3 separate regions of the Homo sapiens genome follow, and regions 2 and 3 are each linked to region 1. Evidence: fine-mapped expression QTL. A gene starts in region 1. Each other region holds a variant in brackets. All regions are shown on one strand. Distances are between the middles of the regions. Region 1 holds the start of IL18RAP (interleukin 18 receptor accessory protein). Region 2 overlaps IL18R1 (interleukin 18 receptor 1). Region 3 overlaps SLC9A4 (solute carrier family 9 member A4).

Region 1 (2,500 bases):
CCTATCCGTGGCATTCTGCAAGGCGCATTGCACAGAACCCCCTTTCTTTCTTCCATGAACACGCCTTGCTCTCAGCAGACAGCCAGGTCAGCATCAGCAGCCAGGTGGTAGCATCCTGTACTTTCCTGTACTTTCTGGCTCCACCTGGACAAAGTGGTCTGGGCAGACTTTCCTTTTCACCTGCATGGTTCTACCTGCCTCTTGTCCAAGATTAATCTCCCCATGGTATCAGGGACCCCACTTCTTCTGGCTTCCTGGGAGAAAGCAGTCCATGCACCCTCTCCTCACTCTCACTTGTATTTGTCCTCACTGACCTGCTGACGCATTCCCCTCGCAGTGGAATCCTACCCAAGGCCCTCTCATCTCCAGAAATGAGCAAACACTTCCTCCTGTCTTCCTGCATCATGCAGACTCTAGCAGGCGTGGTTCTTCCCCGCTTCCCACATTCCCTCTACTCCTCTCTCTCCACCCTGAAGCTCTCCGTTATCTCACCCCAGCTGCACATGCTGAGCTTTTGGTGGCCAAACCAAGACTCTTTGGTGGACACTTTTCAGTCCTTCTCATGCCCAACTCCTCTGCAGCTTCTGAAACTGATGTCTAGTCTCTCCTCCAAGCTTTCTCTGTCTGGATTGCCAAGGTGGTCTCTCTGCTCTGCTCCTTGCATTCCTTTTAGGTTTGTCATTCTTTATTTTCCATTAGCCCTGGCCTACTTTTAAAGGTTGAGGTTCCTCAGGGAAGTTCATCTGCCCTCCCTTATGGGGCAACAGAAACAATCCAGGCTTGTTACAGATGCCCCAGGCTCCCTCCAGCTGCTGAAACTGAGACCCTGCTCTGAGCCATATGCCTCCCCACCCCTCTGCCCTGGGAATGCTCCAGCTGGATCCCCAAGATATTTCAAGTAAGTGGTTTGAAAGGTCCCATGACTGCCTTATCAAGAGAGGGGACTCAAGTCCTTTGGACACAGCCCAGATCTGATTCTCTGGAGGGGACCTGCTCCCCCTTTCATATTTGAGAGTTGATAGTGGTGCCATCCAGTGACAATTTTCCCTCTTGCATGTGGGGCAGGGAGAGGTAGGTGGCCTCTATTCTCTAATAGAATAGACTAGTATATGCAAACATTCTCAAATTTTATAAATAGGAGCTATATCTCTAGCTTTCCTAACCGTGAAAAATCTGACAGTTTTATTCAACTTGGGTCATTTTTTCAGGAAAAGTTAAACATAACTCTTTTCAAATTACTCATGGAAATACACATGCTAGGTGAGCACATCAAAGAAAAAAGATTAATGAGGGGAAAAATGGCATTAAAAGAACACACTGCATAGAGCCTAGGGATATTGGGAGCTTGAGATGATTTGTAAGAAATGACACAAGTGAAAAGGTTGCTACACACCATTGGAAATACTCACGTAAGTTATAGGCAAGTGAAGGCCGGTTTGGGTAGGACCTGCCCTTTCAAAGCTTCCTGTGTGAGATGCACTTTGTTCACTGGTTCTGACTTCTTCATTTCCCATTTCTTGATTTACAGAAATGAAGGGGATACTCAGGGCAGAGTTCTGAATCTCAAAACACTCTACTCTGGCAAAGGAATGAAGTTATTGGAGTGATGACAGGAACACGGGAGAACAATGCTCTGTTTGGGCTGGATATTTCTTTGGCTTGTTGCAGGAGAGCGAATTAAAGGATTTAATATTTCAGGTAGGGGTTTTCACTTTTCATGTTAGCACTGTGAGTCTGTGGTCAAGTGTAAAGTGATGGATAACCTGATATATCAGCAGTGTGATATATTAATACAAACCTTTCCATCCTACTATTAAAAGGGGACTGAGAGGAGAATTATTAGGGTGAACAGCTTTCAGCTGATACCAAGCATTGTCGAGGTACCCTGTTACTGTAGTTGAGTGTTCAGTGAGATCAGCTGACGAGGGATGAGCCAGAGTTCTACCATCTTTTCCAGGAAACCAGGGCTGCTGCTGGTATGCTGGAGTCCACTGGGAGGGAATTAGAACAGGCACTTCCTTTCCCCTACAAAATAGACAGTGAAGAAGAAAGACACACAAGGAAGCTAGATCTCTTGTTAAATCAAGTACTAGATGTAAATATAAGCTAGAATTCCATTTTCTAATGTGTTTCCATGTGCTTTGTTTATTATGATTTTCAGGTTGTTCCACAAAAAAACTCCTTTGGACATATTCTACAAGGAGTGAAGAGGAATTTGTCTTATTTTGTGATTTACCAGAGCCACAGAAATCACATTTCTGCCACAGAAATCGACTCTCACCAAAACAAGTCCCTGAGCACCTGCCCTTCATGGGTAGTAACGACCTATCTGATGTCCAATGGTACCAACAACCTTCGAATGGAGATCCATTAGAGGACATTAGGAAAAGCTATCCTCACATCATTCAGGACAAATGTACCCTTCACTTTTTGACCCCAGGGGTGAATAATTCTGGGTCATATATTTGTAGACCCAAGATGATTAAGTATGATCCAAATA
Region 2 (2,500 bases), 38 kb before region 1:
CTTTGTTGAAAATGACCATATTTCCATCCACTTGTTTATCTTTTCCTCTATTTTCTTTCAAACAGTTACAGTTTTTAATCTGCTAAATTCAGCATCTGTAGGTCTGCTTCTATTAGCTGTCTTTTCTATTGATTATGGTGCACATTTTCTGTGTCTTTGTATGTCTCTTAACTTTTTATTGTTGTTGATCTTTATGTATCAAACAATTAAAGTGAATACAGTTTGTGTTATTTTTTCTTACAAGTAGGTAGCCTGAGAGTTGAGTATCTCAGTTGACTCAGAATTGAGTTGGGGTGGCTGGGATGTAGGTATGTTCACTCCAATCTGTCTTCATCTCTGATAGCTGGTGAGGGAGGGGGTGCTGCAGTCATGTGTTTGATGCAGGCCTCTTCTCTAATGAGACTTGCTCTCCTGATTACCATGAGACTGCAAGTGATATCATACAGCCTTTACATCCTTTTACGCTGTCCGAGCGCTTAGCAGTAATTCTGCAAGCCTGTGCAGCTGCCGAGAGCTTCACTGGATTTTCTTGTTTCTATGAGACTCTTTCTGTTAATTACAAACCAAAGCAAATTCTTCCATGGAATGAAATGGCCACCTATCTTAGCTCACCCTAGAAAGGATCCTTCTTAAGTACGCTTGTAGTTCAAAAATTTCTCTTTATTTTCTCTGTACTTTGATGTCTTTAATGTTTGCTTAATTTAATTTTTTTGTGATTTATCCATTTGGTTTATCTAGAAGTCTCAGTGAGAGTATTGTCCTGATGCTACGAAAAGAAAGTACACTGATCACTCTAAGTTTTAATAGTTGATTAAAAAATAAATGTTTAAAAAGAAGCCAAATCATGTTTTGATGATGACTTGTAATTGCTACCTATTTCTTCTGCTTTATATATTTTGTTTTATTTAAAGCAAGGCATATTTATTCTCTTTCTGGGATGGAGCACCACGTTTTGCTTTAGGTTAACATACATTGATTATATTGTTTTGAAACTTTTAAGAAACCTGAGTTTCAAAAATCAGAACTTTAGTTGCCAACTTTTACCAGGAAAAAACGTAAGGCTCAACTGCTCTGCTTTGCTGAATGAAGAGGATGTAATTTATTGGATGTTCGGGGAAGAAAATGGATCGGATCCTAATATACATGAAGAGAAAGAAATGAGAATTATGTATGTATGTGTAATATATATGTCATGATATATACCATATAACAATCATATATATTATATATAACATCATATTAAAAACACTGGGTGGCTGATGTGTATTTTGGGCTAGTTTAAATTATAATTATAATGGACATATTTTATAATTATAGTGGCCATACCCTAGGTGGACGCATTATGCAGAAATGTATTGC[C/T]AAGATCTAAGCTGGAAAAGAAGGTCCATGAGAAGGCCATTGAGGGTATTTAGCATCACCTTATAAAGTAGCACTTGGTCAGTCAGGATCCGATGGGGATGGGGATTTTACTTAGCTTCTTAGAAAAGGGCAGTTGCCTAGGCCAAGCTTTTTTTTATTTTGAAAAATTTGTTAAGTTGTTTATTTTTCTAATGGGCCAAAAAGGCTCCAAATGGCATGCATATTGATAGTTAAATAAGCCTATATTCTTCCATTAAGGAATGGTCAAACTTATAAAAAGAATCAGTCTAAACATATAGTCACCTAAGCTTTTCTGAATGACTTTGGGTCATACTGTAAGTATTCATTATTATACTGATACACTACTCAGGGTCTAGTGAGTGCTGAGCCTAAGTTGTCTACCACCTTTGCTGCACTTGTTGAGTTTTTTCTTCTGCTTTTTACACATTTTTTGGTACCTTCTTTGTTACCATGCTTGCAGCTCTACATTCTTGCTGACACTTGTCTACAAGCTCTTTACACCACAAAGTCTGGCTTCTTGCCCGGGAGCAGGCATGTGGTTCATGCCCACTACATGTTGAATTCATTTGAAATTTGTGGATCTCCTGCCATCATATCTCATCCTCAGCCACTGGCCTCCATTTGAGTTTTGTATTTCTCCCTTTGGATAATCTCTTTCTAATTTTTAGAGGGGTAGAAAACCACAGTGAATTTCTTAGAAATGCAGCTTAAGCTACAAAAGCAGAGAGGTCTTTCTTTATAGTTGGGTGCACACACCTTTGATATCATCTGTTTTGTCCTCTCAATGGCCTCCTGTGTTTTACTTCTGGATTTCATTGGTTTTAGATGGTTGTTATTTCTGGATGGGTGACTTAGGAAAAGAATTACATTCCAAAATGTACTTGAGGCAGTTGGAGGCTACAGTGGGGCTCTGTGTCCCGGGTCCTAGATATCCCTGTTGCTAGGAATGTGGGCACATGGGGCCCATGTCTGGCTGTGTTGACTGGTGTAGCTATCAGAGCCTGTCATTGGTGGGGGAAGTGGATGTCATAAGTGTTTACCTGGCATCAACCACAGGACAACTTGAATCCTTTAAGGAAGAGAAAAAGAACGTGCTGCCAGTGGCTTTCTCAAGTCATTT
Region 3 (2,824 bases), 76 kb after region 1:
AGTTCATAATTTATTATTCAAACTGTATAAAATGCAAATTAATCTATTGTGACAATAATAAATTAGAGATTTCCTGGGGCCAGGGTCGGAGAGAAGGATGGACTTCAAATGAATGAGGAACCTTTCAGGGTTCTTGGGATTTTTCTATATCTTGACTATGGCGATGGCTTTATGAGTATCTACAATGCCCAGAATTCATTCATTTTAGATGCAGTTTACCATATGTAAGTCTTTCCTCAATAAAGTTAACAAGAAAAAAAATGTCAGCACATTTGGAATTGACTCTTCATCTCTGCTGAGCCCTGGTCGAAGGACTAATGTTTTTAGTCATTGTGTGAGTCTCTGTGTGTTAAAAGGGCTTTGCAAACTTTTACAGTGGCATCAGCTAAAGGATCATAATTATTATAATGTTGGAAGGCTTGGAAAATCTGTTAAAGGTAACAAAAAGGACCGTTTGCTGAGACAATGAGTGAAGAGGAAAAATCTAACCTTGTTCTCCATGGGGCTGTGGACATGTTTGAGATTTAGCATTGGCTGAGCTTTTCCCTTCAGTGTATAAAAGACACACACACATTATTGTGACTTGAAATGAACCCAAAGAAAATCTTTTGCAACTATAATGTTACCCAGAGCCTGGTAATTTGAAAGGTAAGAACTGTTTTTCGTGCAGTAGTAAGGATTGTGATTGTAAATGCAGTCTTCTTAATTATATGTACTACTTTAGCTTCTGAAACTGCCATGGCATCTTCCTGGCAGGGCACACTGGTGTCCAGAGACAAGGCTGGCCCAGTTGACTTTCCCAGGCCATTGGGACAGTCTGGGTAGCTACTAATAATCTAACAAGCTATGTGAAAGAGTTTTAGTTTGTGGCAACAATATTCAAATCTTTGAGTCTCGGTCATATTCTCTGAGTTTCCTTTGGATTTGAGAGTCAAATAAACAGGTTCCACTTAACCTCATTCAGACTTTCCTTTTCTGGGATTGTGGGGAGTGTGTGACTCCTCACTGTGGCTTCACTCCTTTCAGTGTGAGCTCAACTCCAACAGTGCAATACTCAGGCCTTCTAAGACCCATATGTGGCAGAAAGTGAAATTGGACAAACAAACTCACCGAGTCAAGACACAACCACTGAGATTCTTTTGGATTCATTCAAAATCATATGTCACATTTTTTTTCAAATACTCAGCCCAGGTTTTCTTAAAGCATGGCTTCAGTTTGTTTAAATAAAATAGACCAGGATTTTAGCAGTTTTGTAAAGTGTGATTGATACACAAACAGACCAATAGATGTTGTCCAGGTCCTTCATGGATCAGACACTCAGAGTGCATTAAATGTACAAGAGTTTTACTAAAGAAACTCCTGTGAGGGAAAATGGGGAAGAAGCCCAGGGGGATGGGAGAGCCCTCAGGTCGCAGTGCAGAGTGATTCCAGGGGAAGGAGAGAGGGAAGGACAGAAGCTGGATGGGACTGTCTTTGCTGCACTTCTTAGAGAGTTTATTAAGCTCATCAGGAACCCACAGGCTGAAACACGTATCCAAGGAGTCCTTTGCCTTCCAGGAAGGGGCCTATCTCAGTGTCCCTGCCAAGCTCAGGCCTTAGCTGAGAATGGCAGATGGGCATCCCTGCAGTTAGAGATCTGAGGGGCTCTGATGGCCCCAGATAGAGAGATGGATGATAGACAGCAGATGGATAGATGATATATAGATGGATAGATAGATAGATAGATAGATAGAATTAGAAAATACATATCTGTAGTAGTTTTCTCTAGGAGGGATTGTGGGACTTTTGTGGGGGTTTCCCTTTGCTCTTTTGTTT[C/G]TGGACAATTTCTACACTTTTTCATGTATATTCTTAACCAAATTCAGTTTAAGATCTCTGCAAGTCTTTCTCTTTTTAAGTAATTCTTTTCCTAATACGAGAAATTCACAATGTTCATGGTATGTGTGTGTGTCTGTGTGTCTGTTGCATGTGTCTGTTGCTTGTGTGTCTGTTGTGTGTGTCTATTGCATGTGTCTGTATGTTGTGTGTGTACTTGCTTGGACCCATTGGCACCAAGCTTTCTGATTCTTCTTCATCTTCCCCAGCTTCCTCTCCTCCCAGAAAATACACTAGAAACTTATCTTTGAGGGAAGAAGGCAAGCCTATTATAACCTTCTGCCCACATTCCCTTATCTAAACATGCTTATTGGCTACTGGTTACTTATTACATTGAACAGTGAGCACTAATTTATACACTCAAAACCTGCATCCTAGGCTCTCTTAAGAAACATGATTGAACCATTTGGGGAATAAGCCAGAGTTTAAGACCTTGTAAAATTCAAAATAAAATTATTTGTGCTCTGAGAGATTTATAACGAAAACTTCTAGTCTGTAACACAAGTTAATTTCACAGTATGGTCATTTTGTTTATAAAAGCTGTACTGGCTGGAATAGTGTCCCCTCAAAAATCCATGCTCACCTGGAACTGCAGGATAGGATCGTAACTGGAAACAGTGTCTTTACAGTTATCCTTATTGAAGGCGAGCTCGCACTGGACTATGGTGGGCCCTAATCCAATGCCTGATGTCCTTATAAGAAGGTGATATGACACAGAGGAGACACACAGAGAAGACCAGGTGAAGACGCAGGCAGGGACTGGAGTGATGCACTCACAAACCTAGGAACGGTGAGGACTGCCGGCAGTCACCAGAAGAAGCTCATAAGAGGCAAGGAAGGGCCCTCCCCTAACGCCTTCAGGGGGCGCGTAGCACTGCCGACATCTCGAGTCCAGACTCTTAGTCTCCACAACAGTGAGAGGATACATTTTTGTTAATTTGAGCCACCTAGC

What was found. PIP is the estimated chance that this variant, and not a neighbour inherited with it, causes the effect. A credible set is the group of variants that fine-mapping cannot tell apart.
Region 2: its variant is the best candidate, but not a certain one, in a credible set for the expression of IL18RAP in whole blood (INTERVAL, PIP 0.82).
Region 3: its variant is the best candidate, but not a certain one, in a credible set for the expression of IL18RAP in whole blood (INTERVAL, PIP 0.86).

Annotation. Positions count from the first base shown.
Region 1 is chr2:102,421,650-102,424,149 of GRCh38, forward strand. IL18RAP (interleukin 18 receptor accessory protein) reads left to right here and starts at 1,511. Exons shown (of 10, transcript NM_001393487.1): 1 at 1,511-1,698; 2 at 2,162-2,486. The coding sequence starts at 1,629.
Region 2 is chr2:102,383,831-102,386,330 of GRCh38, forward strand. IL18R1 (interleukin 18 receptor 1) reads left to right here. Exons shown (of 11, transcript NM_003855.5): 7 at 1,048-1,168. Among named protein-coding and RNA genes, the nearest start is that of IL18R1, 29 kb to the left of the region's middle. The variant C/T (reference allele first, on the strand shown) is at 1,360.
Region 3 is chr2:102,497,586-102,500,409 of GRCh38, forward strand. The region is part of intron 2 of SLC9A4 (solute carrier family 9 member A4); the gene reads left to right. Among named protein-coding and RNA genes, the nearest start is that of SLC9A4, 26 kb to the left of the region's middle. The variant C/G (reference allele first, on the strand shown) is at 1,816.